Linked DNA regions of Homo sapiens. The protein of the gene in region 1 binds, or shares a complex with, the protein of each later gene. Each region holds a gene or a part of one and is shown on either strand. Other genes may lie near its edges. A codon is read from its position in the direction of its gene.

Region 1 (7,513 bases):
AGGCGTGAGCCACCATGCCAGGCCCCCTAATCCCTTTTTTTTCATGTGGCCAAACTACTATTTATCCTGTGAGTCTCCACACAATCACCCTCACCCAGCAAGCCCTCCTAGACTCCCCAGATGGGTCCAGGTGCCTTCTCTGGGCTCCCAACAGCACTTAGGGCGTTCCCCCATCCTGCATGCCTCCCTGTCCCAGCCTTGTCCTCCCTGCTGGTGCCTCCCCATCCCATTCTTGATCATTCTAGGTCATTCCTGCCTGGTGGGGCCTTGACAAGATCTCTTAGGTGTCCAGAAGTGACTGTGGGCCCCATGAGGGCAGAACTGAGGGCTGTCTTGGTTATCACTATGTCCCCCACACCACCCAGCACATGGCCAGGCACACAGCAGGAACCTGTGGGCAATTATTGAATAAAAGCATAAATGAGAGGGAGGTGAGGGAGAGAGATAGGGGCACCATGGGCCCTGCCAGAAACCAGACAGAGACAATCATCTCCTGGACAGATCAAATGAGTTAGTTAGGCTCTCCCTGGCCTCCAGGCCTTTGCACAGGCTGTTCCCTTTGCCTGGAATCTTTTTTTTTTTTTTTTTTTTGAGATGGGATCTCACTCTTTCATGTAGGCTGGATTGCAGTAGTGTGATTATGACTCACTGCAGCCTCGACCTCCCAGGCTCAGGTGATTCTCCCACCTCAGTCTCCCAAGCAGCTGGAACTACAGGCACGTAACAGCATGCATGGCTAATTTTTGTATTTTTGTGTAGAGACCGGGTTTCGCCATGTTGCCCAGGCTGCTCTCAAAACTCCTGAGCTCCAGTGATCCATCCTCCTTGGCCTTCAAAAGTGCTGGGATTATAGGCATAAGCCACCATGCCCAGCCCCAGAATACTCTTACACCTCTCCTTTTCCTGACCATTCTACTCATCCCTTCAACATCAGCTATGGTGCCCCTCCTCCAGGAAGCCCTCCCTGATTCTGGGCTGGGTCAGGTACCTCCTTTGGGCTCCCCATCCCAGTCCCACCCACTCTGGGTCATCACTGCCTTACAGGTCTGTTCCCCAGCTACCTAGCCAATGGACTATATGAGCTCTGTGAGGGCAAGGATGGGGCTGTTTTGGTCATTGCTGTGTCCTTGGCATCACCCATCACAGGGCAGGGCAGAGAGGTGCTCAGGAAACAGATTAGCCAATCACTCAGGTTTCCATGCCACAGAGGGGAGCCAGGTCTCAGCACTTTCACACCAGTATGGGGCGGAGAGGGGTCCTAGGCAAAGTGACCCCAGGACAAACAATGGGGTGGACCCCAGGGAGAAACAGGGGTGGGACACACAAGTAATCCTCACCTCCACGGCTCAACCACTGCCGCACAACTCCGGTGACATCAAAAGATAACCACTCTGGCGAGTCGCTGGGTGCCAGCAGCCGGTTGCTGAGGTATCGCCAGGAATTGTTGCTGTATTTCTAGAGGATGATGAAGGCAGGAGAGAGACAGTGGGTAGATGGTGTCACGACCCCACATACACTAACTGAATCCTTCACCCCATCTGCTTCCCCAAACAGGCTTCCAGAAAGTTCCCAGGCACTACCCTCTCAGACAGCCACCTGTGTGGTCCTGTGGCACCCATCCTCCCCAACAGTACCCATGAGAGGAGGGGTGGAGAAAAAGCTCAGGCTGCGGTCAAGTCACCTTCACACAGCTCAGCCGAAGGTGTTTTCTTGCCTTCTCGAGGCCTGTTTCCTCATTGGTGAAATGCTAAGCCCCACTCAGCGTGGACAGCCCACAATGCTAAAATTCTGCTGCTAACATTCTGGGCCGGGCGCAGTGGCTCACGCCTGTAATCCCAGCACTTTGGGAGCCCAAGGTGGGTGGATCACTTGAGGTCAGGAGTTCAAGACCAGCCTGGCCAACATAGTGAAACCCCATCTCTACTAAAAATACAAAAATTAGCCAGGCATGGTGGCACACGCCTGTAGTCGCCACTATTTGGGAGGCTGAGGCAGGAGAATTGCTTGAGCCCGGGAGACACAGACTGCAGTGAGCCAAGATCACGCCACTGCACTCCAGCCTGGGCGACAGGACGAGACTTCGTCTCAAAATAATAATAATAAATAAAATAAAATTCTGCTGCAAACATTCTGGGGTTTACTGAGCATACGGTTCTGCAAATTTGACACCCTGAATTCTCAGTAACTTAGAAGTCATTTCTAATGATTCCGGCTGGGCACGGTGGCTCACGCCTGTTATCCCAGCACTTTGGGAGGCCAAGGCGGGTGGATCTCCTGAGGTCAGGAGTTCAAGACCAGCCTGGCCAACAAAGTGAAACCTCGTCTCTACTAAAAATACAAAAATTAGCCAGGCGTGGTGGCACACGCCTGTAATCCCAGCTACTCAGGAGGCTGAGGCAGGAGAATCACTTGAACCCAAGACACAGAGGTTGCAGTGAGCCGAGATTGCACCACTGCACTCTAGCCAGGGTGACAGAGTGAGACTCTGTCTCAAAAAAAAAAAAAGTCATTTTGTGATTCAAATGTTTGATAATATCCCAAGATTTCCACTTCTAGAGCCTGAGAAGCTTTAGAAGACTAATGTTCTATAAACCCAAGAGTCTGCCATGCCGCACCTAGATGCTGCAGGTACCCAACATCTGTGTAGAATAATTTTCTGGGCCAGGCACAGTCGCTCACGCTTGTAATCCCAGCACTTTGGGAGGCCGAGGAGGGTGGATCACCAGAGGTCAGAAGTTCGAGACCAGCCTGACCAATATGGAGAAACACCGTCTCTACTAAAAATACAAAATTAGCTAGGTGTGGTGGTGCATGCCTGTAATCCCAGCTGCTCGGGTGGCTGAGGCAGGAGAATCGCTTGAACCCAGGAAGCAAAGGTTGTGGTGAGCCAAGATGGTGCCATTGCACTCCAGCCTGGGCAACAGGAGCAAAACTCCATCACACACACACACAAAAAAAAGAAGAATTTTCTGGGGCTGGATAGTCCACTCCAGGGACTGCAGAATAAAGCTGAATTCCCCAGACTCCAAGAAGCCAAGCTAACATAGGACAAAGTTCTCTCACTGTGAAAGTCTGAAATCTACCATCCTATGAGTTAACATTCCCTCTGATATGGATTCTAGCTCATAGAAACTGCTAGAGCCTCCAGCCCTTCCAGATGCCCCAGTCCTCTTGGAAGCTCCCTATCTTCTAGAGCAGTGCTGTCCTAAAGAACTTTCTGGAAATGTGCTTTATCTGCAACATCCAAAATAGTAGCTGCTAACCACATGTGACTATAGAGTACTAGAAATATGGCCAGTGAGAATGAGGATTTCTTTTTCATTTTTATTTTTTTGAGACAGAGTCTCGCTCTGTTGCCCAGGCTGGAGTGCAGTGGTATGATCTCCGCTCACTGCAGTCTCCACCTCCTGGGGTCAAGCGATTCTCCCACCTCAGCCTCCCAAGTAGCTGGGATTACAGGTGCCTGCCACCACACCTGGCTAATTTTTGTATTTTTAGTAGAGATGGAGTTTCGTCATGTTGGCCAGGCTGGTCTTGAACTCCTGACCTCAAGTGATCCACCCACCCTGGCCTCCCAAAGTGCTGGGATTGCAGGCATGAGCCACCACGCCTGGCCTATATATATATATTTTTGAGACGGTCTCGCTCCATCACCCAGGCTGGAATGCAGTGGTGCAATCACAGTTCACTACAGCCTCGACCTCCTGGGCTCAATCAATCCTCCCACCTCAGACTACTGAGTAGCTGGGACTAGAGGCACGCATCACCATAACAGGCTAATTTTAGTATTTTTTGTAGAGACGAAGTTTCAACATGTTGCCCAGACTGGTCTCGGACTCCTGGGCTCAAGCAATCTGCCTGCCTCGGCTTCCCAAAGTTCTGGGATTAGAGGTGTGAGCCACTATGCCTGGCCCTAAATTTTTAATTTAATTTTAAACAATTTAAATTTTAATCAAGCTAAATGTGACTAGTGGCTGTCATATTGGACAGAATGATTCTAGAGCCCCCAACCTTTTCAGAGATTCCAACTTTCAAGAATCCTGTGTCCTTAAAGAGTCCAACTCCTAAGATTCCAGCCTTCTAAGTGTTTAACATCCTAGGATGCAAAGAGTCTGAACATTTAAAAGTGCTCTAGGTTCCGGGTGCAGTGGCTCACACCTGTAATCCCAGCACTCTGGGAGGCTCAGGTAGGAGAATCACTTGAGGGCAGGAGTTTGAGACAAGCCTGGCCAACATGATAAAACTCTGTCTCTACTAAAAATACAAAAATTAGCCCAGCGTGTTGGCACATGCCTGTAATCCCAGCTACTCGGGTGGCTGAGGCAGGAGAATCACTTGAACCCAGGAGGCGGAGGTTGCAGTGAGCCGAGATCACCCCATTGTACTCCAGCCTGGGCGACAGAGCAAGACTCCATCTCAAAAAAAAAAAAAAAAAAAAAAGAGGCCAGGCGCAGTGGCTCACGCCTGTAATCTGAGCACTTTGGGAGACCGAGGCAGGTGGATCACGAGGTCAGGAGATCGAGACCATCCTGGCCAACATGGTAAAACCCCATCTCTACCAAAAATACAAAAATTAGCTGGGCGTGGTGGCGCACACCTGTAATCCCAGCTACTTGGGAGGCTGAGGCAGGAGAATCACTGGAACCCAGGAGGCGGAGATTGCAGTGAGCTGAGGTCATACCACTGCACTCCAGCTTGGCAACAGAGTGAGACACTGTCTCAAAAAAAAAAAAAAAGCGTTCTAGGATTGTATGGTTTGTGTTCTTCTATCCTTCAGGGACCATCTAGGTGGACCTTGTAACCAGCCGACCCACAGCCACCCCCTTGGTCACAGCTCACCCTCTCCAGCCCATGCCCTGACCTTCCTTCTGGCTCATGTCCTCACCTGGTACAGCTCCACGTGCTGCTCCACTTTTAACTTGAGCCTCAGCAGACGCAGCTCTGCCCGGGAGAGCAACACGGGTTCAGGTACCGCTTCTCGGAGCTCTGATGTGTTGAAGAACATATATATGCTGTGTGTACTCTGCTTGAACTTGTCATAGATTTCTAGCAGGGAGAAATGAAGGGAGGCGATCAGGGGTTTGGCAGAGGTGAGGGGAGCTGGTGCTCCCAACTCTAGGAGTTTTGGAGCTGACAGCTCTGGGGTGGAGTCAGTCTCTGATACCTTTTATTTATTTATTTATTTATTTATTTATTTATTTATTTATTTAAATGAATTTTTTTTTTTTTTTGAGACGGAGACTCGCTCTGTCACCCAGGCTTGGAGTGCAGTGGCGCAATCTCTGCTCACTGCAACCTCCGCCTCCAGGGTTCAAGCAATTCTCCTGCCTCAGCCTCCCGAGCAGCTGGGACTAAAGGCTCATGCCACCATGCCCAGCTAATTTTTGTATTTTTAGTAGAGATGGGGTTTCACCATGTTGGCCAGGATGGTCTCGATCTCCTGACCTCGTGATCCACCCGCCTCGGCCTCCCAAAGTGCTGGGATTACAGGTGTGAGCCACCACGCCCAGCCCTGACTGTGATACTTTTTAGCTGTGTGACCTTGAGGAAGTGGTTTCTCCCCCTAGGTTTGTTTCCTCCTCTGTAAAATAGGTCCTAACCACATTCCTCTCTCATGTAGCATCATCTCTCAAGTCGACTAAGGCTGGCACCAAGGGGAACCACTCTGTTTGCTCTGGCCTTCCTTGCCCCAAATGCAAGAGCCCCTAAAATGCAGAGTAAGGATCAAAGGCACAGGCTTTGGACTCAGATAGTGCCTCTGCTGCCTCTTGGCTGTGTGACCATGGGCAGTTAACACCCTCTTTCTGAATGTCAGTTTCCTGTTATTCTTTGAAAAACAGCAATAACATTAAGCTCCCTGCATTCCCACACAGACTCTCCTAATTTAAGCGCTGTGTAACCTTGGGCAAGTGAATTCCTCTCTCTGAGCCAGGTGTAAGACAAGACAGAGTGACTCTAGAACCCATTCCAGTATTATAGTGGGAAATTAGATGACCCAGGTCAAGCCATGTGGCACCAATTCTGCATACACTGGTCACTCAATCATGTATACGTCTAAGAGTGCTGGCTGGGCGCAGTGGCTCACGCCTGTAATCCCAGCACTTTGGGAGGCCGAGGTGGATTGATTACTTGAGGTCGGGAGTTCGAGACCAGCCTGGCCAACATGGTGAAACCCCGTTTCTACTAAAAATACAAAAATTGGCCAGGCATGGTGCCGGACGGCTCTAATCCCAGCTACTTGGGAGGTTGAGGCATGAGAATCGCTTGAACCTGAGAGGCAGAGGTTATAGTGTGCCGAGATTGCGCCACTGCACTCCAGCCTGGGTGACAGAGTAAGACTCTGTCTCAAAAACAACAACAACAAAAAACCACAAAACAGCGCTATTTACCAGATGCTATCTAAAGCACTTTACAAAGATGAAGACATTTAAACCTCACAACCTTATACTATTATTATACCCGTTTAATAGATGAGAAACTGAGGCACCGAGATTAAGTAATTTGCCCCAAGGTCACATAGCTGCAGACTGGGATTCAAACTCAAGCTGTCTCATTCCAGAGACTGTGCTTTTTTTTTTTCTTCCCCCAAGAGACAGGGTCTCACTCTGTCCCCCAGACGGAAGTGCAGTAGCACAACCATGGCTCACGGCAGGCTGGAACTCCTGGGCTCAAGGGATCCTCACGCCTCAGCCTCCCAATATGTTGAGATCACAGGCATGAGCCACCACACCCACCCAGCTAGAGACTGTGCTCTTAACCCCTAAGTGATTCTTCTACTTATTTTTATTATTAGTTTTCCACCCTTAACTCCCTTCCCCAGCTGGTTAGGGAAAGTGAAGTTCATTCTGGGTAGGAATGGCTGTAGTGGGGAGAAAAGGAATTAAGGTGTTTTCTTTTCTTTTTTTTTTTTTTTTTTTGAGATGGAGTTTCTGTCGCCCAGGCTGGAGTGCAGTGGCGCGATCTTGGCTCATAGCAACCTCTGCCTCCCAGGTTCAAGCGATTCTCCTGCCTCAGCCTCCCAAGTAGCTGGGATTACAGGCGCCGCCCGCCACCCCGCCCAGCTAATTTTTGTATTTTTAGTAGAGACCGGGTTTCACCATGTTGGCCAGGCTGGTCTCCAACTCCTGACCTCAGGTGGTCCACCCACCTTGGCCTCCCAAAGTGCTGGGATTACAGGCGTGAGCCACCGCGCCCAGCCAAGGTATTTTCTAGTTTAGGAAAAGTTTGGGGATGGGGATGAGGGAACAGGCCATGAACTGCTGGATCAACTGGGGCAACTGCTTCCAGCCTCCCATAGTGGGGGTGTGAAAAGAGACTGGTGAGAAAGGCAGAGGAAACCCCTCCCCTACGGCCCCCTTCGATCCTCCTCCTCCTCCCCAGTCTCCCTCCCCACCCAGCCCCAGTAAGCCCTATTCTTGGCCCGGAGGTTACTCAGCAAACCCCAAAGGAAAGGCAGAGCCTTGGCTGGGGAAGACAGATAGGGAGGAAGACAGAGAGGAGGGAGAGGAAGGGT
Region 2 (7,763 bases), on another chromosome or scaffold:
CCAAGGTGCAAACAGAGTGGATAGATATTCTTTCATAACATTATTATACTTTATATTGTCTCAAATTCCCCCCTGCCTTTTCTTTACGTTGCATTTTAAGCTTTTTCTCAGCTTTCGGCACAACCCAAGCAGGGAACACATTTTCCCTTTCCTAATTGTATTATTTACCTTCCTAAACCATTCTTTCATTTACTCATCTGTTTACTCAATATCCATGAAGTACCTGCTTTGTAACTGGTGAAATACTAGACAATGAAGACTTAAAATTCACCCATATTCTCAATATAAACATTAATTGACTACTTACAAAGTGCCAGGCATTGTGTTACTTGCTAGGAATAGAAAGATTCCTGAGACACAGTCGCTGTCTGATACATAGCAAGAATTGAATAAATATTTGTTGAGTAAAGGCAACTATTTTGACAATTACAAGCAGAGCAAAAATGGCTATTCTGGGGAATGTCCACAGGAGGGGAGGCCTAGAGAAACCAAAAAGTGTTTCCTGCAGACACTAATGTTTACACTGAGACCTGGAGGGCAAGCTGAATTAGCCAAGTGAGAGGCATGAGAGGCAACCCAAGGCCTGCAGGAAGAACAAATGGTTTGTGTGAAGGCCTGAAAATTAGGGAGGGTGTGCACTGGAGGGGCAGCCATGGGGGACAGAGAATAAATCAATCAGTGTGATTATGATTCTAGGACTGAGATGGAAGTCTTTATGTGGGATGGCACAAGTCCATTTAAATACATGGTCAAATTGTGGTTTTAGAGTTCTAGGACCTTGTTGCTGCCTGCATCTGGTTGTCAGAGGGACATGAGGATGATCTAGAAGGGGTATGTACCACTTCCACTCGTATTCTGTTGGCAAGAGCTGGTTGTTGGGATTTTCTTAGCTGCAAAACAGGCCAGGAGAGGTAGTCTAACTGTGTTCTCAGGAAGGAGAGATTGTTGGTGGCAGCTAGAACCATGGAGAGTTTCCAGGGATTGGCATATCCAGAGCTGGGCAGCCACCCCGATCCAGCTCCTCTAGAGTGCCTGCTAGCGGCTGCCAGGGAGGTCTATGGGCAGACAGGCAACTCAAGACCTGGGGAAACCTCTGGAGCCCAGGGCAGCACTTGTCAGTCCAAGGCAGTTTTGTAGGATGTAAGATCTTTTCTTCCAAAGTGAGGTTTGAAAGTTGCATGTTCAGTCTCCAGACAAAGGTGGATTTTGTGTGGGAAATTGTCAAGAACTATGAAGGGCCTGGGCTTTTACCTGACTTGCAAGCTGACAAGTTAGCTTGTCATGGATTTGTGGGTACTGATGGAGACATGCGATGCCTGCATCACAGAAAAAGAACTTTTTAATTATTTTTTTTTTTTAAGAACTTTTTAATTCACAGCAATTGCAGTGGTCAGAGTGTCAGCACATTCTTTCACAGTTCCCCAATACCATTTCCCACAAGATGACACAAAAGAAAGAGGTGACTCCTGCACATGTAGTAAGATGTGTTATAAGAGAAGAACTTTGAGTTTAGGGAAACTGAACCTTTTATAATGGGCAGTAAACAGGCCTACTCTTTGTTCTGCAGGTTGACACTGTCTCTATCTTCCAAAGCTGTAAGCAATTTTTCCTTTTCCCTAAAGAGGGACACTGTCTGTATTTTCAAAGGCCGTTCACTTTATAAACATCCTGGAAAAGAGAGTCTAGAAAAAAGGCAGCCAGGTCCTCTGCTTGTAAGATGTGCAGAAATGTGAGAGACACTTGAATTTGTCTTCCAACAAAGACAGGTTCCTCTTTAGCAAGATGAAGTGTTCTTTAGATAGAAGCTTCCTTTACTAAATCCTTCTCCTCTTGATCTACAGATATCTAGAGGCCCCAGGGCTCAGTCCTCAGAGCTCTTCCCTATATACATTCGCTTCCTGGAGGGATCTCATTCAGCCACATATCTCTGAACACCATCAGCCTCATATCTTTAAACCCATGCTGATAATCCCAAATTTACAGTTTGCTCTTTGACATTGCCCACATTTCCAGACCTAGATATCAAACCTGCCTATGTGGCATCTTCACTTGGTTATCTTCTAGCCATCTCAAACTTACCATGTTCTTGATCCTCATCCTCCACATGAAACCTGATTCTTCCTCAATGTAATCCCTCTCAGTAAAATGTATCACTCAGCCAGTACAATGTATCTATGCCAGACAGAAACCTCTTTCTTTCATGTTCACATCCAATCTATCAGCACAGTCCAGTTTCAAAATAGATCTTGAATCTGATCACCCCCTCCTCCTGCACCACAAACATCCTAGTCCCAGCCACGATTATCTCTGTTCTTGACAGAGACATGCATTCCTCTCTTGCCCCATTCACCTTCCAATCTTGCCGCATACATTTTCACTTCCTCAGCAGCCAGTGTGGTTCTTCTAAAATGTAAATTAAATAGTATTATTTCTCTACTTTCAACTTTCCAGTGATACACAAGGTATAGAATAAAATTCAAGGTCAAGACTACATATGATCTGACCTCTGCCCTCAAATCTGATTACCCTCTCTCTCTCCCTTCTTGTATTCCACTTGCCCTTGAAAACACCTGCCATTGGGCTGTCTCAGGCCTTCATAGTTAGCTGTGTTGTCAAAGTCATCTAGGGCTCTCTCAGATGCCAGTTGGTCAGGGAAACCCTCCCTGACTATTCTAAAGAAAATCACACACTCCCTTGCCCCTCTTTCCTTTTACCCAGACTTATGATTCATAGCCCTGGGCACTGCCTGATTTTAGAAGTCTATCTCCCTGCACTGCCCTCCAGCCTAGAATATATGCTGCATGGATCAAAAACTTGGTTGTGTTCACTGATGTAGCCTCTGCTTCAAAAATAATATTTGACAGAAAGTAAATGCCCAAGAAGTACTTGTTGAATGAATGAATAATGAATGAATAATAGTTAATACTGGATTTTTAAAATGACAATAACAGAGACACAAACAATTTGTGGCTCGATCTTTCTTCTTCAAGTTAAATCAACTAATTTTATATAAATTTTCTCTCAAAATGCATATCTTCCAATTCTTCAATAATTCTGGATTGTTACCGCAAAATTCTTGCCATGTTTTTCCAGCTTCTTGGATATGATGGAGTTCAAAATTGAACATAACATAGGCTTCTGAGAAAAGCCTAGGTAGTCTATAATTAGTTTCTCTCTTTCTTTGGTTTTTTTTTTTTAATTATTTTATTTTAGTTTTTATTTTTGTGGGTATATAGTCGGTGTATATATTTATGGGATACATGAGATGTTTTGGTACAGGCATGCAATGTGTAATAAACACCTCATGGAAAGTGGGGTATCCATCCCCTCAAGCATTTCTCCTTTGTGTTACAAACAACCCATTTATAGTCTTTTAGTTATTTTTAAATGTAGAATTAAATTATTATTGACCATAGTCCGTTTCCCTCTGTTTACAGGTTTCACATGCTTACCCAGGAATGCTCCTTGAAAAGATAATCTCCTCAGACATAAGCCTGGCCACAGAAAAGTCTCTCTAAGGTCAGCAGTTTCTAGAGTGACGAAGTGAGAATTCGATTCTTATCTGTTCACAGACTCTACAAATCTCAAAACACCTTCCTGAAGAACACCCTGGGGGAAAAATACAAAAAACCTCATGGATTTAGCCATAGATCATATATATTTTGAATTGTCACTCTTTCACTCAACAAATAAATATCTCCTATGTGCCAAATCATGAGCTAGAGGTTGGAACAGCACATTGCATAGAGAACTTGGTCCCTAGCCTGAGGGATTCAGAATCTTGGGCACCATCATTTCTGTTTTCATCATTGTTGTCATCAGTGTCTTTTGAGACATTCTTATTTTGATCTCCTTTGATTTTTATATATTATGATTATTTCCAATATAATTTTAAAATAAGAATTTTATACTTATGGAAAAATATATTTCATCTAATTTGAAAAAATAAGGAAACAGTGCTTTGCTTTCCCTAGCCTTCCTTCTCATTTACTGTAAGATAATAATTTTTCTTTTTCAGGGTTCGTTTCAATTTTTTGCAAAGGATTTAGCAATGAAACACTAAAATCTCAGGCATTTTCATTAAGCTCATTTTTTACTTTCCTCATATATAGCCTATATGCTTTATTTAATCTTTATTCTTTACATTAAATTAAAATTATTTTTAAAATGACTATATTTCTATTGCTGTTGTGACTTTTCATTGATCAATATTTCACTAAAGATATTAACTTTCTCTAGGATGCAGAGAGACTCATAGAACTTACACCAAAATTTCTACTGAATGAATTTCCCCACCTTCTTGGTGATTGTACACCTGCCTTCCTTATAAGGAGAACAAGGAAGTAAATCATGTTGAAGTTGCTTTTAAACACAGCTTTTCTGCTTTACCTGTCCAGGTAGCCTCTGTTTTCATTTCAGTCTTAATGAAAACTTTCTAACTTATATCTCAAGTTTCTTTTCAAAGCAGTGTAAGTAGTATTTAAAATGTTATACTTCAAGAAAGAAAGACTTTAACGATATTCAGCGTTGGTCTTGTAACGCTGAAGGTAATTCATTTTTTAATCGGTCTGCACAGCAAGAACTGAAACGAATGGGGATTGAACTGCTTTGCCTGTTCTTTCTATTTCTAGGAAGGAATGATCACGTACAAGGTAAGACCTGCGTTCTCTGATATATTACTTTCGTGGTATGCTTGACAAACCTGTCATTTGGTTCAGAAACTAGATCTGAAGTCATGTTTTATTTGATCTGTTCCATTGCTCTTTTGTGACTGAGTGAACACTTTAACAAATTACAGACAAACACCGGGCAGTTCCCACAGTGAATGCTCTAGGCTTAAGGTAAATAAATACAAAGGTTGCACAGGCATTTTAATGAGGAGAATTAAATAACATTACTGCCCAATGGAACTTAGTGCCAGTATGATAACCATTTTTGAAACTTTTCTATTTTATTCTACCACAAGATCTTCCACTTAGGAGTAATAATCTTGAAAGAGAAAGAGGATTTATTTCAAAAACAGAAATAACTTGTTTAAGAAAGAAGCATTTTTTAATGGTTGCAAGTAATTTTTAAAAATTAAAGTGGCACACATTGGCTAAGAATAATAAATAGGATAATCCTATATTTGTGAACTTTCACATTTTAAGAAAAAAGAGCATGATAATTTTGGCTTATAAGACATACATAATTTTTAATATACATACACATATTTTACATGTGATAGATGTAAAATACAAACTTTTATGTGAATTGCTAACATTTCGAGGACTGATTTTGGATACTAAACTAAACTTTGATGTTGTTTTGTTCAAGTAATGTAAGAGCCATCAGTCTCATAAATGGAATGACTGAAAGTGTACTTAATCCCTGCATCTTGCTGGGTCTAAACCTAGGTGGCTGTGCCCTGGGAGGTGCAGAAACCTGTGAAGACTGCCTGCTTATTGGACCTCAGTGTGCCTGGTGTGCTCAGGAGGTAAAATAAATGACCTCAATGTGTTTTTAAAACCTGTCTGCAGTTAAATTCATGTTAATTTCCTCAGTGATATTTCTGATAGTGACTTGCTTTTTTGTGGAGTTGTATAAGTAAAACAAATCAGGAAAGGAGAAGGTGAGCATTGGTAGATCAAAATGGCATTCATGTGATTACTTTCAAAAACAATTTGTAGAAGGAGTGGATGTCAAATAATTCGGAAAAAAATTTTAACTTGGGATTTTTTTATTTTACCTGGTTCCTTCTTTTATTGTAAAGCCATTTCTACAGGTTACATGTAAAATATGGAGGCTGTCTGGATAATCAGAGTTCATGGAGATGATATTTTCTAAAGTTAAACATACATTTGATGTTCATATTATAGTTGTATTCCCTCTGGGTACCAGGATCCATTCTGAACTACTGCTAGATTCTAAGGGATGTGTTTTAAGTTTGGGGCAAATATTACTGGTCAGATATTATCCAGTTCCTTTAAAAATGGCATTTTCATAAACTCAGTGACTCTGTACCACACCAGTGACAAAGTGCCAAATAGGAACTCCTTATCTGGTCAAACCGAAAACTACATGAAAGCAGTATGAAGATGATTGGGGACTATGTACCAAGCCATCCTAAGACACTAGAGAATGATGTCTAACTGATTCATGGTAAGGAAGAGAGGCATTAGCTTTCTGAATTTTAAAACAAGTCTCTATGCACTGGATCTCATAAAGATAATCTAAACATAAATCAAATCATACGAATACCAAGTGCAGCAAGAGCTGAGTAGCATGCTCAAAGAGCAACAAACCTCGACACCAAACTCAGAACTGGGTTCTACCTGTGGAAACCCAAACTCCGAGTTCAGTGTGTATCCATGAAGTGTGGCCTCACAGACAAGAGAGCACAGACACAGCTCAGTCCCTTACTACGGCCTTGACCAACGCGGCCACAAAAAAAATTCAAGAGAATTATGCTTTTTTTTAGTTCCTGTATCAAAGCAGGATTGAGAATATACAAGAAGGGAAAAAATCACATGTTTTTTGGATATTGACTTCTTGAAGAAGTATTAGTTTCATGCCAGAGAGATACAACAACAAATCAGCCTAGAATTTTCATTTAAATGCATTTTTCAGCATTTACTTAAGAGAGTTTCCTAAGTTGCTGCTGATAACTTTACTTGTGTATAATACTTGGTAGCCAAATTGTTGTCAAATTGTAAAACCAAATTATTCTAAGAGGCCACTCTAATATTAGAAGTAGTTATGAGGATGCCAGTCGAGGCAGTTGGAGCAAAAAGTAAATTAGGCTTCTGCTTAGGGCAGATAGAAAATAGGTCATGTGGTTAACACCACCTCTGATCTTCTGGCAAAGGCTATGAATAGAGGTGATAGCAATGACACTGTGTTGAGAAGGATTCTGAAGCCTTGGCCAGCCACTGTTTCCCTTGGTTACATCATGGGAAGTTACAGTTTGCCATGCCTGGCCTAGAGCTTCAGACACGCACAGGCCTACTGATAGATAACAAATTGTATTCTCAAAATCAATTTCAGAAGAAATCTAACTTTCCTAGTTGATGAAAACAGCAAGAGTGGCTTGGAGTTCTAAGAGGCAAGGAAAATAGTATGAGCATTGGTTTTGTTTTCTCTAAGCATGAAAGTCAATGGGCAACAAGTTCCCCTTTGCATAGTGTCATGCCCACTCTAAAGCAGCCACGCCTATCAGGTAAGACAGGTATTTAATCTATTAGCTCCATCTCCCTGTTTTGGGTGTTTCAGAATTTGAACGGCCACATCTCTGCTGGGAAAGACTACATCTCACTGCCCCTCTGCTATCCTTGTGGGAAACTCCTGTGTCCCACGCAGAAAAGCAGACTTTTTTTTTTTGAGACGGAGTCTTGCTCTGTCGCCCAGGCTAGAGTGCAGTGGCATGATCTGGGCTCACTGCAAGCTCTGCCTCCCGGGTTCACACCGTTCTCCTGCCTCAGCCTCCCAAGTAGCTGGGACTACAGGCACCAGCAAAAAGCAGACTTTTAACCCATCTTTTTCACTTTTCTTCCTCACTTTCAAATCTTGGAGAAAGTTATAAAGGATCTTGAACTAGGATACTTCAAGACTCTGGGTTTAAGTCCACAAGAGGTCAATTTAGGTGAAGTAATGCTGCAATATAAGGGTAACAGACCGATGCATACAACTGGCAGAGAGTGCTAGATGGGGGAGATGTTGCAATCCCTACCCTTTAGGAATCTGCAGAATCTCTCTTTATCACTAGATTTGGGGATTGACACCCT
Region 3 (7,513 bases), on another chromosome or scaffold:
CATATTTCTAATCTAGAAATTTCACTTCTGGCAATCTGCCTTGCAGAAATATTAGCACAAATGCATGAGATATTTTTACAAAGATATTCAATGTAGCATTAAGTGGAAAAACTGAAGACAATCCATCAACAGGGACATGATAAGATCCATCGTGGGAGATAATATGAAATTCGAGACTAAATTAAAAGATGTACAGTATATCTATGTGTTCTATCTTGTTTAGAAGGAATTGTAAAAGTGGTTGGGTATAAAAAAGTGTTGCAAAATAATATTTATAGTATGATCAGATAGTTGTACTGAAAGATGGATGAGTGGATGGAAGGATGGACAGATGGATGAAAGGAGGGAAAGAGAAAGGAAGACAGGGAGAGATTGGGAGAGAGGATGGAGTGGGAGATAATATGAATGAATGATAGAGACGTGTGTGCATCTAATACATTGTCAATACAGATGATCTGTTGCATTGGGAGTGAGGGGAGGACGAAAATGTACTTTCATTTTTAATTTTCACACACTGTTGGATTGTTTGAAATTTTTGATGACGAGCATATACTACTTTTGTAATTAAAAACCACTGAATTCTCTTCTTATTAAAAATTGAGGGAATAGTGTATGCCTTCCTTTCAAGCTGAGTAAACGCTGAACTTCAAAGATGGAGGCTAGTATCTAATCTACTCTTCTCCTGGCTCTAGGGGTAAACTTTGGCTTATTATTTCCTCTCTGTATTGCAATGTTTCTCTCAAATGGGATCGATGACAAGTACCCTAAAGACAAATCCTGGGACTATGTACAAGAAACAACATCAGTTATAAAGAAAGTCCTCCTCCAAGATTAAACAACCCCATCCAAATCTTTAGAACAATAGTTACCAAATTTTAGCTGCACAGAATTACTGGGAGGGCTTGTTAAAATACAGATAGCTGGGGTTCACCCTCTATGTTTCTCATTTAGTGGGGCCTGAGAATCTGCATTTATAACAGGTTCCCAGGTGATACTGATGCTGGCTGCTCAAGAGGCCGCACTTTGAGAAACACTGCTCTAGGTGAAAGAAACTATTTGTCAAAGACAAATAATAATGTTTGCCCCAGTCAACCATATTTGATGAGAACCAGAACAAACCCTGCTACTCCCCAAGCCCCTCTTTCCACCAGCTGAATGAGCTCCTAATCCACTGTATGCAATCCACCACAGGAGGAATGTGCTCTATGACACTGCAGACCAAGGATACAAAAAATTGGCACAGATCTCAGGTCCCACACCCTTAAGAGAAGAAAACTCACCTTCTGAGAAGATGATGTTGTCATTGCACTCATCAGAGCTACAGGAACACATGAAGAAAGTCTCACCAGGCTTTTTTTTTTCCTTCATAATGCACTTTGGAGAAGCAGCATCTTCCAGAATAAAGTCATGGTAGGGGAGCTTGGGGTCATGGCAAACTGTCTCTAGTGTTATGTTCTCGTCATTCTTTCTCCTAGAGTGAAGAGATTCATTGGAAGCGAGGGGAGAGGGAGAGAGAGAAAGAGAATAAATGAATAATATGGCCTCCAGACAGAAAGGCAATCTGGAATACTTTTCCTTCATGAAGTTGTTCCTAACAACGGCAGCTGGTTCCTGTTCTCCAGCATTCGCAGGCTGTCCTATAGTCTCCTATGCTTTTCTACTCTTTTCTGTTTTTCCTTTGTTTATTCTTGGAACCCATTTGTGATTATAAACATCACCTGGAGCAGACAGCGTTCCACGGGGCAGTCCTGGTGGAGAACTTTACATATTTAAGTCTTAATTAAATCATTAAAGGGGAAGACATGGAAAAAAAGAACATTCCTAGGTACTCAGGATAATTTTAAATCTTCCATCCTGAATGTAATGCAAACCTCACATCACACCCCTAGTTTAAGTGGCAAAATCTGTCCTGTCTAGCTATACTGTTTTCAAAGAGCATGCCTGGGGAAATAGTCACAGTTCCTCTTTTTTTTGTTTGCTGGGCCCCAGAGCATTGCGTGTAAAGGGTATACTCCTTGTCAACAGCTGGTTCTGCTGAGAAAAACGGGAAGAAACATCGCAGATAAAGAACTGCAGTCTTTCCCAAATTACAGAAAGGAGCAATTCAGAAAAAACAAACAAACAAAAAAAACAAATAAATAAAAGAAATGGAAAGGGATGTCAGGGTGTTCTTCATTTACAGTTCAATGAAATATTTTATGCTGTCATAAACTAACTACTTTGACAGTATCACTTCATAGCACATATTTGAAGACTAATTTAGCCCAGGGCTCAGAGAATTTCTCACATAGCATTTTCCTTGGGCCCTAGGAAATGCTCAATTGGCCGTCAGTGTACATTAGATTTTTAAACAACATGATTAATGCCCACTATTATAATTGAACAAAAGAACATTTTGGCTCTCTTGGAAAAGGGTATCACCTCTCTATCTACCTCCCTCTGCTCCCTCATGAACATACTATCTTGGATGACTGTCCAACAAGGCTAGTCTGACATCCACCCTTTCACCTCTGTCCTTTTTAGATGCAAAATACCTGTTGTCTTGAATCGCATTCTCTCTGTCTAGAGAGGGAGCGGAAGGAAGGGCTAATCTGGTCCAGTCAGTTTTGCTAGAGTAATCTTCTATGAAGATTCTGAGTGCACACATGAGCCAATGCATGCATGTACTCACTCACCAATTTTCCCCTAATCCTCCCTGCCCCATGCACAAAGGCTCACTGCTCACAGCAAGGAAAACGGAAGGCAGGCTAGAAGCAAGAAGCAGCTAAGACACAGCTTGCACCTATAAAAGATGCGGGGCCATCCCCATGAGAGAAAGAGCAACTTTGACCAATACCACTTTTTTAGTGCTTAAGTCAAGGACATTAAAGGACAATATGTTGACAAAGGGATAAGGGCAAGGGTATGGGTTAGGACAATCCAGGCAGGAATGGTGCCAGTGTCAACATCCATGCAGCCCAGAGTTGACTCCAGTGGAGGTACATGTGTCTGCTTGTGAAGGGGCTCAAGGGTTCTTAAACTAGAATTCCGAAAGACACAAGAGGAGCAAGGCTTTGCTAAGTTGGTCCCTGCTGTGACAGGAAGAGTGACAAGCAGAATAATTGGTTGAGGGTGGCTATCAGGACACCAAATGAAACTAAATGAAAGTTGGCATGATCATACAACAAATGATGTATAATTTGGAAATCTACCCATCTTTAACCCCAAAGCTACTTGGCAGTCTTCAAATCAGCTGTAGTCATGGAACAAGAACACCTTCCTCCCTGCCCCCACAGTTTTGTGTGTGTGTGTGTGTGTGTGTGTGTGTGTGTGTGTGTGTGTAGGTTGTTTTTGGTTTGGGTAATAAAACGAAGGTATGCTGTGCCCACAGAAAGGCATGGTCTCTTTTCCTTGTGACGCTTATAGAGGCCTAAGAAGGAACTGTGAGCCATGAAAGAAAGCTGCTCTATAATTATTGGGCAGCTCTTCCAGAGCCTCCGGTTTTCTACCTCTTAGCTACTGAGAGAACTAACATCACAGAGAGAAAACAACTGTAATACTTGAGACCTGGTAAAGCCCTTAACTGCTTTCTCCACTCACTCCTGTAACAGCCAGGCACAGCTAACTTTTCAAACTCTTTTTGGATATAGCTGAGCATAGGAAAGGTAAATACAAAGAAGTAAATACGGACTTCTTTTTTTGTCCTGCAACATTTGCTCTGAGCCACTGAAGAGGTTGTCAATTTCCACTGAAAGAAGAACCAACATGATAAAATTAATTTTGGAGGCTGGGCACGGTGGCTCATGCCTGTAATCTAAGCACTTTCAGAGGCCGAGGCAGGCGGATCACAAGGTCAGGAGTTCGAGACCAGCCTGGCCAACACAGTGAAACCCCATCTCTACTAAAAATACAAAAAATTAGCCACGTGATGGTGGTGTGCACCTGTAATCACAGCTACTCAGGAAGCTGAAGCAGGAGAATCGCACGAACCCGGGAGGCAGAGGTTGCAGTGAGCCCAGATCACGCCATTGCACTCCAGCCTGGGCAACAGTGGGAGACTCCCTCTCAATTTAAAAATAATAATAATAATAATTTTGGTTATAAAATATTTCTATCCTTGGAGGCAGCTTAAGCATTTTATATGGAATGGGCACACAACTGACATTAGTTAAATGAATGAATGAATGAATGAATGAATGAAAAAACACTAAAACTGATTAAAAAAACAACAACACTGAAATCTACAATCATAGTAGAGCCTTTCAGTTTCCACACTGGCTATTTTTACAATAGCCTCCTGTCTTAGTTTAGGTTTCCTGGAAACAGACCTTGAGGCTGTGAGAGTTCTGTGCAGGAGGTTTTTGGAGATGCATCTGTAAGCGACTAAAGGCAACAGTATTGCACAGAAGGAAAAAGCTAAACTATAATGCAGGTTGCAGCAAAGGCCTCAGTGAATGCCTTGGAAACTCTGAAAATGGGATGTCCTTCAAAGATGTACCACATTATGGCAAAATAACCAGGAATTTGTTTCTCTGCATCAACTAGCCATGGGATGATGGCTACCCATGAAAAGTGTCCAACGTGAATGAGGCAGCTCCCATCACTGGAGGGAAGGCTCAGCAGTGATCCTTCAACAGCCAACACTCCCAGGGAATGAGTGCCTTGGTCATGAAGGAGGATCAAGGAGGGCACTATAGCGTACCCTATACTTCCCCTTCTCATTATCAACACCCCTGGCTTCACGGGAGAATTTTCTTTGGCCAGCACAGGTCAAAATAATGTTCATTGTATTTACCCTTTATAGCTGGGACACAGAAAAGACAGGGAGGCCTCCTCTCTTCGACATGCTCACATTTTTTTGAGGCTAGCAAAGCCTCTATTCTAGAGAGACTTGATTCACATTTAATGATTTGGGCTTGTATTACTGGTCAGGAAAACAAAAATCTTAATTAAAAGAGCCTTTTTGGGTTGCAAAAGCAAGTGCTCACACCACCGTAGATATTTAAGAAACCACGGAAGGAAGCTTTGAGGCCATCTAGTCTGGTGTCTCAATCTTTCCTGCATTCTATTTGACATATGGTCATCCAGCCTCTCCTGAACTTCACTTGGTGCTTACAGAAAAGGAAGCCTGTTCTGCTGTTGGGAAACCATGATTGTGAAAATGTCTAAACTTATGCTGAGCACAAGTCTGCCTGCCTTGCAAATGTTATGGATCCTCCCTCTACCCTTCAGAGTTATGCAGAATATGTTTATTATATTTTCTACCTGAGAGCCTTTCAATTTCATCAGCAGAACCCACGATCTCTCTTCACTGTACTAACCATGTCTAATTGCCCAGGCCATTCCTCAGACAGCATGATTTCTAGGCCTCTAACCACACTGGTCCCTCTCCTCTGAACACATTCTTTGTCCAAATCCTTTCTTTGAAAGCGTTACCTAGAAGTGGACATGGACAGGTATCATATCATATTGGCAAGTATGTCATGACAAGTCTTTGCTGTTAACATTCCTTCAGTTCTTAAGAAACCAGTTCATCCCGTGGTATGTACAGAAGTTTGCAAGGTTTCCAGATCTATCATCAAGGCTAGCTTTACATGGTCTAGGGGTCTCAAATGACTCATTCCCAAAAAAGGGGGAGAGATATTTGGGTTTATATTCTTGTTTGTCAACTAGCCAGGAGACACATAAGTTACTTTTTTTAAAATGGCCAATAAATTAAAAACATCAGAATAAGTCTGCAAAATGTCATATCTCATTAATGAATTTATGTACTTTTGTAAAATTACAACTCTTCTAAAGATCAAGGTTATTTCTTGTTCATGCTCACAATCTATAACCATGAATTAATCAAATGATTCATGAGTATCCACTGTGTATGTATAATTATTATTTGAGATGTATGTATGAGTTGGAGGGAATGAGAGAGAGAGAGAGAGAGAGAGGAGAAAATGTGATCCGATAAAAATATATAGTTCTGGTCGGGCATGGTGGCTCATGCCTGTAATTCCAGCACTTTGGGAGGCAGAGGCGAGTGGATCACCTGAGGTCGGGAGTTCGAGACCAGCCTGGCCAACATGGTGAAACCCCGTCTCTACTAAAAATACAAAACTTAGCCAGGTGTGGTAGTGGGCACCTGTAATCCCAGCTACTCGAAAGGCTGAGACAAGAGAAACGCTTGAACCTGGGAGGTGGAGGTTGCGGTGAGCCAAGATTGTGCCATGGCACTCTAGCCTGAATGACAGAGCAAGACTCCATCTCAAAAAAAAAAAAGAAATATGTAGTTCTGAGCTGAGAGAAAGAAGTCATATCTATCCCAATGGTTATATGAATAATATAACCAGAATTTCTGACTAAAAAAACAGGTTGTTTTTGTGGTTCTCCAAGTAGATTCCCCATTTTTGGCTGGTAGTTTTCTCTTCCAACAGCCAACCTTTCATCACCTCTTCTTCCAGACCTGAGATTGCCTCAAGAGAACAAAGCTCCTGGTCTCACTATGGGGTGCTGAGGAGGTGTCGGTTAAATGACTACTAAGCGGCAAATCCCTCTTCTTGATACAAGAAAGAGTTTCCAGATTTATTATATTAAAGATCATTTTATGATCTTTACATTTATCATGATCATTTTATAATCATGATACGTTTATATACCCACATAAACGTACACATACATGCAGAGAACACCCCTAGAAACTACATTTAATAATCGAAAGAGAGATGGTCTAAAGGAAAGGGAAATGGAACAGGTGTTTACATTTAGGAGACAGAGATACACTGACTGTGTGTACTATGAGAATACATTATGTAAAAAGGGGAAAAGAAAGAATAACTTCTTAAAAGGCTTGCTTACCATACAGCCACACAGACTTCCTGTGGCTTCTCACAGATGGAGGTGATGCTGCAGTTGCTCATGCAGGATTTCTGGTTGTCACAGGTGGAAAATCTCACATCACAAAATTTACACAGTTGTGGAAACTTGACTGCACCGTTGTTGTCAGTGACTATCATGTCGTTATTAACTGAGGAGAGAGAAAGATATATTAAATGATTATCCAACTGCCAGGCAGCCTGCCAATGAATTCCTGAAGATGTTATGCAATTTCAAATGAACTTGATGTCATGAGAATGAATCTGAAGAAAGGCAAAATAATTCCTTCACATCAGATTAGAATTATCTGGTGTATGCAATTTGTAATAAAATCCATTGTACCGTGGTGAGGGGTGGTGAGGGGTTGGGGTGGTTGAGTAGCCATTTGCTTTTGTCAATGGTTGTCATAAGGTCCACTTTCTACAAAAATCTTATCATTCAATAAAGAAACCTAGATGGGCCCACTGCATAGTACGGAGTGCTGGGCCCACAAATAAAAGTACCCTTAAGGAAATTATAGTTTAGCTGGTGAATAAGACAGGAAACAGACCAAGTCAGGGTGACCCAAAATAGAGGGCAGCACAGAGGATGTGGGAGCCAGGCGAGCATCACCGCTCAGCTGGGCAGGGAGGCTATAACCTCACAGAGTCATGAAGTGCCACACCAAAGG
Region 4 (7,859 bases), on another chromosome or scaffold:
CAAGCAATGAAAGAAGAATAGGAAACAGCCACTTTAAGGACATTGTGTATGTTTGTATATAACAGAAGGATGGAGGCTTGTGGAAAATGGTTACAGGCAGAACTAATGTTGCCCAGGAAGATGGAGCCCTTTGAGCAAAGATAGCACTCTGGAGAAAAGTTAAGTTATTTAATATGGCTAAAGCTCCTTTGTGAGGTGGGAAGTGTTAAGAAATGAGAGTTGAGAGCATGACAATGCATAAGATCACCCTGAGGAGAACTGCAGTGATTCAAGAACAGAGACTTAGGGAATCCTAGCATTGAAGGGGTAGTTTAGGAAACATGGCCCAGAAAGGTAACAAGTTTACTGCCTGCCTTCTCTTCTTTCCCATTCACCCAAAGAGCAGAAGTGCTGGCCAGAATCTTTTCTGATACAGATCAGATAGGAAAGGGCAGCACTGGGAGTGGAAGTGGTTATGGGGGTGAAGAGAGAACAAGTCAGTCTCCCTAATAAACAGCCAAGAGAGGAGTGACAGGAGTGAGTTAGACAAGCAAACAGCAACAAAAATTCCAGGGCAGGGTTTAGTGGGTTAAAGTCTCCAGAGAAATTGAGAGTAGAAGAAGCAGATTTCTGAAGTTCCCATGGGTTATTAACTGAATCTCCTTTGAGGTTCTTTGAGAGAGATAAAATTTGAAATTCCTCTTAAATTATGGACTAAGTTCCTTTGTTTGCAGAGACAGAGCTGCGTGAAGCCCTGGTTTGATTATGGTTATTGAAGGACCTGTTGGACAGACACTAGGGGAACTAAGAGAGTGAAATAATAGTCATAAAAATTTACGGCAGGAGAATTGCTTGAACCCAGGACGCGGAGGTTGCAGTGAGCTGACATGGCGCCACTGCACTCCAGCCTGGTGACAGAGTGACACTTTGTTTCAAAAAAAAAAATTTATTATTGCTACCATGCTAAACTATTAGTCTTAAAAGTATTAATGGCAACAAGAACTGTTCAATTCTAAGAGATAGACATAGTATTACTCCCCTTTCCCTTTCATAGATAAGAAAACTGAGGCACAGATTGGTTGGATTGATTTCCCCAGGGTCATACAACTAGTAGTTGGCAAAGCCAGGAATGGAACCCAGGTGCTTTATTTTACAGAAACCACTGGAATCAAGATTTTTACTAAAGTATAGGGTAGTAGAGGATAAAATTCAAAGTACAAATTCTTTTTACTATCTAATATTTTATTTTCTAAGAAAAGGATTATATTCAATGAATACTTAATGTATACACAGAAGTTCTCCTTTTAAGTTGGAAAACTGTTATAATGTAGTTCAAAGAGTAGTGTCATGGGGGTAGGGGAGGGGCACCACCATTCTTTCGTAGACTAAAACATTCTTTTCTCTGTCCCATGCACATAGTACCAGGTGCAATGTGGATTTTGAATCAGCACTAGCTGAATTGACATGTTCTACAATACAATTTGCAAGGCACTGTGTGAGTGGCTGCTCGAGCATGGTCACACAAAGAGATGCCTGCATTTATAACCCCAAGTTTCTAAAGCCACTGGGTTAGTCTGCTTCATAGTTTCCTAATTGAAATGTATGTTTGCTTTTTTTTGTTGTTAGACAGTCTCGCTCTGTCACCCAGGCTGGAGCACAGTGGCCCACAATACCACAATATCTCGGCTCACTGTAGCCTCTGCCTTCCGGGTTCAAGCAATTCTCCTGCCTCAGTCTCCTGAGTAGCTGAGATTACAGGCACACACCACCATGCCTGGCTACTGTTTTTTCTTTTTTGAGATGGAGTCTCATTCTGTCATCCAGGCTGAAGTGCAGTGGCACGATCTTGGCTCACTGAAACCTCTGCTTCCCAGGTTCAAGTGATTCTCCTGCCTCAGCCTCCCAAGTAGCTGGGATTACAGGTGCCTGCCACTGCACCCAGCTAATTTTTGTATTTTTAGTAGAGATAGGCTTTCACCATCTTGGCCAGGCTGGTCTTGAACTCCTGACATCGTGATCCACCCACTTTGGACTCCCAAAGTGCTGGGATTACAGGTGTGAGTGAGCCACTGCGCCCGGCCAATTTTTGTATTTTTAGTAGAGACGGGGTTTCACTGTGTTGGCCAGGCTGGTCTTGAACTCCTGACCTCAGGTGATCCACCCACCTCGGCCTCCCAAAATGCTGGGATTACAGGCATGAGCCACAGTGCCTGGACTATTTGCTTTTTTAAAAAAAACAAATTCCTTGATTTTCAAGACTGCTCATTCAAAATAAACTCATAAAGAATGGCTCAACAGTAAGTGCTTTCAGTAAGTTGTAGCCCTATTTGGGGGTGTGTTGTTCACCCAAGTTTTGGTGGGTGTACATGTGTTGTCATTTCGTGGGCTTCTTCTTTTCCCTGGTCCTCTCACATTTCTTCACTCCACCTTGGTCTGTCGGACCCCTGTCCTGCGATCAGAAGTTGAGGAGTGGGAGACTTACTGGATCTAGCCAGAGTTTAAACTCTTCTGTCTTCCTTACCTGGATGGATTTCCAGGTAGACTGGTTGTCATGTTTTTAAGATATAAAAGACCCTTTGGGTTTATGCATACATATCAATAGCCTCTTTGGTGTATTAGGAAAGAAGGTGAGAAATAAGCTGTATTTGCATTTATGTGTAAGGATTTGTGTAGGATTTCTTCTCTCAATCAGTAATTTCTTTCAGGCAGATGCTAGACCATGCCTTGTAAAACATGCCAAAGGTTTTGCTGCATATCTTTTAGTCAAATTTAAAAATGGAAATATTTAATGCATTTTTTTTTTGAGATGGAGTCTCACTCTGTGGCCCAGGCTGGAGTGCAGTGGCACCATCTCAGCTTACTGCAGCCTCCGCCTTCCGGGTTCAAGCAATTCTCCTGCCTCAGCCTCCTGAGTAGCTGGGACTGCAGGCGCATGCCGCCACGCCCGGCTAATTTTTTGTATTTTAGTAGAGACGGGATTTCACTGTGTTGCCCAGGCTGGTCTCGAACTCCCGAGCTCAGGCAATTTGCCGGCCTCAGCCTCCCAAAGTGCTAGGACTACAGGCATGAGCCACCTCGCCCGGCCTTTTTTTTTTTTAAACACAGGGTCTTGTTCTGTCACTCAGGCTGGAGTGCAGTGGCAGGCTCATGACTTATCATAACCTGGAACTCCTGAGCCTAAGCGATCTATCTACCTGCCTTAGCCTCCGGCATAGCTGGGACTACAGGCATGCACCACACTCCCAGCTAATTTTTAAATTTTTGTAGAGATGAGGTCTCCCTATGTTCCCCTGGAACTCCCGGTCTCAAGCAATCCTCCTGCCTCAGTCTCCCAAAGTGCTGAGATTGCCAGCATGAGCACCTGGACCTGGTCCAATAAATATTACAAATTCGAATTAGGCATTTCACTTTCATTTATATACATATCCTTTCACAGGATTATTTGATAGTTATTAATGTATATTATGATTGAGTTTTAATAGTTACTTTGGGAAAACAGAAATTACTGTTCCAGTACTTACTTGTAAGTTGTAAGTCCACACAATGCACTTAAACTTCACCTTGTTCAACAGATTCTGTAGCACATGAAACACTTGAAATATGGAAGAGTCACTTCTCTGGGCACTTTGCTCATTTCGTCTGCTATTCATTCACTGATTGGACATTTTATTGATCGACTACTATCTGCTTGGCAAGGTGCTAGAAATAAGAACACTAAGAAAAAGGTCAAGGTTCCTGTCCTCAAGGCCCTCTCTCTCAGTCCAGTGTTGTCAAGGCTTGATGAAACACACCAGTGGCAAACAAGCACGCGGGGCCTTATTTCACCGGTGTGCGGTCCTTCTTCCAGCTCTGAAATTATGTCTATCCAAACATCCTAAATCAACAAATCAGTGTTTCTAAATCATACAACCGCAGCTAACAAACTGGGAATAAGGCTTCGATTATTCTGACTTGATTTAAAACGATCACTGCCAATTCTTTGCCCTGCGAATCCTTTCTTTGACTACTAAGTTAAGCTTTACATACCTCACTTGCAAGAGGCTATGCTGGCTTTCTGGAAATCCGTAATTAAGTTCAGTGTTTGTGGAATGGAGTGTAATTAACGACCATTAATTAACAGGGTTTCGTTCGTGAGAGCCTGCCAGGCTAAGCAGCAGAAACACGAGAAACTGATAAAAAGCTTTCCTCATTTTTAAACAACAGTCGCACGGAAGTTCCCGGCGGGACAAGGGAACGTGGGTGCCCTTGCTACTCCCGTGGACGCGGGTAGATTGGGACGCTGGACCGTATCTCCCCGCCCCCGCCCCCACGCCTCCTCAGGTGCTCAGCCTGAGGCCTTCGTCCAGGAGCGCTGCCGCTGACCCAGGCTCAGGAGCTGGGGGCCCCTGCACAGACGCCCAGGTCTCGGGACAGGCGGCGACTGCACTCACGGAAGTACGCTGAGCTCTCCCCTGTAGAAGGGCGCCTCTCCTCCCCCACTTCCTCCTCCAGCTCCACAGCAGCCTCCCGGGCCGGCTCCTCCTCCTTCCAGGTCTCCTCCCAGTGCCGCCGCGGCTCTCAGGCCTGAGGTGCGGCGCTCACCCCGGCAGTCCCCAGCCTCAGACGCTGCGTGGAGCGGCGGAGCCGGAGGGAAGCAAAGGACCGTCTGCGCTGCTGTCCCCGCCCCGCGCGCTCTGCGCCCCTCGTCCCTGGCGGTCGCTCCGAAGCTCAGCCCTCTTGCCTGCCCCGGAGCTGTCCCGGGCTAGCCGAGAAGAGAGCGGCCGGCAAGTTTGGGCGCGCGCAGGCGGCGGGCCGCGGGCACTGGGCGCCTCGCTGGGGCGGGGGGAGGTGGCTACCGCTCCCGGCTTGGCGTCCCGCGCGCACTTCGGCGATGGCTTTTCCGCCGCGGCGACGGCTGCGCCTCGGTCCCCGCGGCCTCCCGCTTCTTCTCTCGGGACTCCTGCTACCTCTGTGCCGCGCCTTCAACCTAGACGTGGACAGTCCTGCCGAGTACTCTGGCCCCGAGGGAAGTTACTTCGGCTTCGCCGTGGATTTCTTCGTGCCCAGCGCGTCTTCGTAAGTGGCCGCACTTGGAACTGGAGCCGGCCCCCTCCCCCACCGCGCGCACCCACCCAGCGTTTCTCCATTGGGATTGATTTCCGAGAGATCCCGGCGTCTGTCTGTCTCACCCATCCTACCTCTCAGAGTGGTTTATATCCTGGGTGGAGGAAATATTTGGGGAAATGAACTCCCTTTGGTACCCATCACCCAGTTACACCCCGCTTCTCACCTCTTAAAATTGGTTAGGGGCAGCGGGAGAGCTTTGAAGCAGACCTGTGCTTAAAAATCGGGGAAAGTGGGAAATCAACAAAGGCTGGTCTTGCCGGACTCCCCGCCTCCTGTGCCAGTGTCGAGGATTTGGTCAATATCATCCCCGAACTTCTTTTTCTCCTCTACCAGTTAGGCTTCTTGGTAGCCTTTTTCTGCTTTACAGGCTTAACGCCCGTCCTTTTCAGTCTCCCTAAACAAGCCCTCCCCCACTCTTTCCGCCTCTGTCTGATTCTGTTTCTCCTTACTCCTTTTGCAGACATTCTGATGACTTAAAATGACCATACTGTCCTATTGAATTCATTGTGTCTTATCTCTGGGACTGTCAGACATTTGCACATTTGAGGTTGAACAGATGAATTGAATGTGTCATCTGTTCTTTTTATAGTGATTCACTATTTAGGTCATTGTTCAGAAGGAACAAGGGTGTTTGCTGAGTTTTCACTCGCTGCAGGTCATTTGAATACTGCAGTATTTAATAATTCAGTTATGTTTTCAAGTTGCCAACGTTCCGCGTTGCAAGGGCCGTCAGGATTTATAACAGTTATTGCCATTATTGTGTTAGAAATTGTCTCCGACTTTACTGAATGCTGACATCATTCTCACCACCCCACCCCCATGTTAGCGTTAGGAGTACTGTTTTAATGAATGTTGACTGTTTTTTTAATGATGTTTAAATCTTGTTTTCAAGAGAGAAACTGTTCTTAGGGTGCCTTCTAAACGCTTAGACCTTGTAACAACATATTTTTGTTTCCATATTTTCTGTATAAGATATCCCTTCGGGGTGAAGTGGAGGAAAATTTTGACGGTTAGTACGTGGATAGGACCATCTTCTACTACACACATGCCTAATTTGAGGGTGGTCTCAATGGTTTTCTATGACTGTTAGGACACTCAGCAGAATTTAGTCTTAGTGTTTTTCTGAATGTTACTGAGTATCATTCATTTTGGTAACAACCTTTGCAGCAATACATAGATTAGATGCAGTTAATGGAAACTTTGTTAGTGGAGACATTATTTTATGTAGCAAGCTTAGTTTTATTTGTTGTTAGCAGTTACAGTGCTTTCTGTGAGACCTGGAGCACAGATTTTCCAACATGATAAAAATAATCATTATTTAGGCAACATTTACCAATTTCACATTCCATTTAGTCATTTTAGTCAGCATTATCTTTTTATTTATTGTTTTTAACCACAGGGGTGAATACCAAACGTTATCTTTAAACATTTTTGTTTCCAGATACTTTCAAGTGTATACCTTCATGAGACAGAACATTTTAGTTGCTCCCAAGGGTTCAATGTGAGATATAATTTGTAGAGAAATTCTAATGATTTTGAAAATATATGTCTTCAGTCAAAAATTAGCATTTAAATACTTCAGGCCAGGCACAGTGGCTCACACCTGTAATCCCAGCACCTTGGGAGGCCAAGATGGGCAGATTGTCTGAGCTCAGGAATTTGAGACCAACCTGGGCAACATGGTGAAACCCTGTCACTACAAAAAAATACAAAAATTAACCGGGCATGGTGGTGCACACCTGTAATCCTCGCTCTGCGGGAGGCTGAGATGAGAGGATTGCTTGGAAAGTTGAGGTTGCAGTGAATGGAGATTGTGCCACCACACTGTGGCCTGGGCGATAGAGAGAGACTGTCTCAGAAACAAAAACAAAATCAAAAACAACAAACAATAACAACAACAAAATAAAGTTGATGGCAGTGTTTTACAATGTTACTGTTAATTCTTCAGCAGTGCTCTGAGTTTAGTGTAAGATAAATGAGAGGCTGATAAACTTTAAGTGTTTTTTTTTTTTCCATGAAAAATGCAGTGATGTTGAACTCTTCATGATATTTGCTACTGCTGATTACAAACCAGGGTGACTAATCTTTGGCCAGTCATTATAATCAATGAATGTGTTATGACCTCACAGGTTTACATGACTTCACTCATAGACCTTTAATGATAAAGTAAAATTGAACTTGGGTTTGGTTGCATATAATATTTTGAAATATTCATCAGCAACTTTGTTACCGATAGACTACAGAGCTCTAGGTATAGGTAACTTAAAAAATGGAAACCAACCTTGAATTTTTTTCTTTTTTCTTTTTAAACAAAACGTATATAAACACAGGTTTTTACTTACTGAGCTTTTCAGATTTAACAAAAATTTATGTAAAATTTTGCTGAATTTTCTAGAAGGGCACTTTAAATTTAACAAGCATTGGAATCCAAGGTACTTGGGATGCCATTTCCAATATTACCAGTTGGATTTATTGTTATTTGGTATTACCATAAACTTTTAAAAGAAAAAAAGCCACATAATGAAAAAGTATTTGTCAATTCAAGAGCGCCTTTCTTCTGAGGGGAGAAGGATTTGTGAGGAGCAGTGGTTGTGACGTCCACTCCTGTTGCTTTTTCCAGTTTTGGTGTCCACATACCTTGGGGAAGCTGTAGAATTATTTTATGCCTAATTTTTCTCTTTATAGAAAATTATTATTGAATTATCTGCATAGTTCATAGTTTTGTTGTGAAAATTAATGAATCAATATTTATTAAAGGGAAGGACAAAGTACTA

The links.
Region 2: the proteins of TGFB1 (region 1) and ITGB6 are in contact, whole or in part, in a crystal structure (PDB 5FFO), measured with the Homo sapiens proteins. Residues at the interface, in NP_000651.3 of Homo sapiens: Pro70, Gly71, Pro72, Glu75, Leu158 (codon at 4,930), Asn237, Gly245, Asp246, Leu247, Thr249, Ile250, His251, Met253, Asn254; in NP_000879.2 of Homo sapiens: Ser142, Ala143, Ser144, Asp146, Asp147, Pro196, Cys197, Ser199, Ile200, Pro201, Tyr202, Lys228, Lys231, Ile232, Ser233, Ala234, Asn235, Ile236, Asp237, Thr238, Glu240.
Region 3: the proteins of TGFB1 (region 1) and TGFBR2 are in contact, whole or in part, in a cryo-EM structure (PDB 9FKP), measured with the Homo sapiens proteins. Residues at the interface, in NP_000651.3 of Homo sapiens: Arg303, Lys309, Trp310, His312, Tyr368, Tyr369, Val370, Gly371, Arg372, Lys373; in NP_003233.4 of Homo sapiens: Phe47 (codon at 6,950), Leu50 (codon at 6,941), Phe53 (codon at 6,932), Asp55 (codon at 6,926), Ser72 (codon at 6,875), Ile73 (codon at 6,872), Thr74 (codon at 6,869), Ser75 (codon at 6,866), Ile76 (codon at 6,863), Cys77 (codon at 6,860), Glu78 (codon at 6,857), Val100 (codon at 1,437), Asp141 (codon at 1,314), Glu142 (codon at 1,311).
Region 4: the proteins of TGFB1 (region 1) and ITGAV are in contact, whole or in part, in a crystal structure (PDB 5FFO), measured with the Homo sapiens proteins. Residues at the interface, in NP_000651.3 of Homo sapiens: Gly242, Arg243, Arg244, Gly245; in NP_002201.2 of Homo sapiens: Asp178, Asp180, Phe207, Tyr208, Gln210, Ala245, Asp248.

The regions. Positions count from the first base shown.
Region 1 is NC_000019.10:41,343,410-41,350,922, forward strand, and holds part of TGFB1 (transforming growth factor beta-1 proprotein preproprotein), read right to left. Parts: intron 5,047-7,513; coding exon 4,886-5,046; intron 1,456-4,885; coding exon 1,338-1,455; intron 1-1,337. UniProt on the Homo sapiens protein: Transforming growth factor beta-1 proprotein: Precursor of the Latency-associated peptide (LAP) and Transforming growth factor beta-1 (TGF-beta-1) chains, which constitute the regulatory and active subunit of TGF-beta-1, respectively.
Region 2 is NC_000002.12:160,196,892-160,204,654, reverse strand, and holds the start of ITGB6 (integrin beta-6 isoform a precursor), read left to right. Parts: upstream 1-4,382; 5' UTR 4,383-4,591; coding exon 4,592-4,652; intron 4,653-5,396; coding exon 5,397-5,476; intron 5,477-7,763. UniProt on the Homo sapiens protein: Integrin alpha-V:beta-6 (ITGAV:ITGB6) is a receptor for fibronectin and cytotactin. It recognizes the sequence R-G-D in its ligands. Internalization of integrin alpha-V/beta-6 via clathrin-mediated endocytosis promotes carcinoma cell invasion.
Region 3 is NC_000003.12:30,644,228-30,651,740, reverse strand, and holds part of TGFBR2 (TGF-beta receptor type-2 isoform B precursor), read right to left. Parts: intron 6,995-7,513; coding exon 6,826-6,994; intron 1,472-6,825; coding exon 1,281-1,471; intron 1-1,280. UniProt on the Homo sapiens protein: Transmembrane serine/threonine kinase forming with the TGF-beta type I serine/threonine kinase receptor, TGFBR1, the non-promiscuous receptor for the TGF-beta cytokines TGFB1, TGFB2 and TGFB3.
Region 4 is NC_000002.12:186,585,490-186,593,348, forward strand, and holds the start of ITGAV (integrin alpha-V isoform 1 preproprotein), read left to right. Parts: upstream 1-4,566; 5' UTR 4,567-4,849; coding exon 4,850-5,034; intron 5,035-7,859.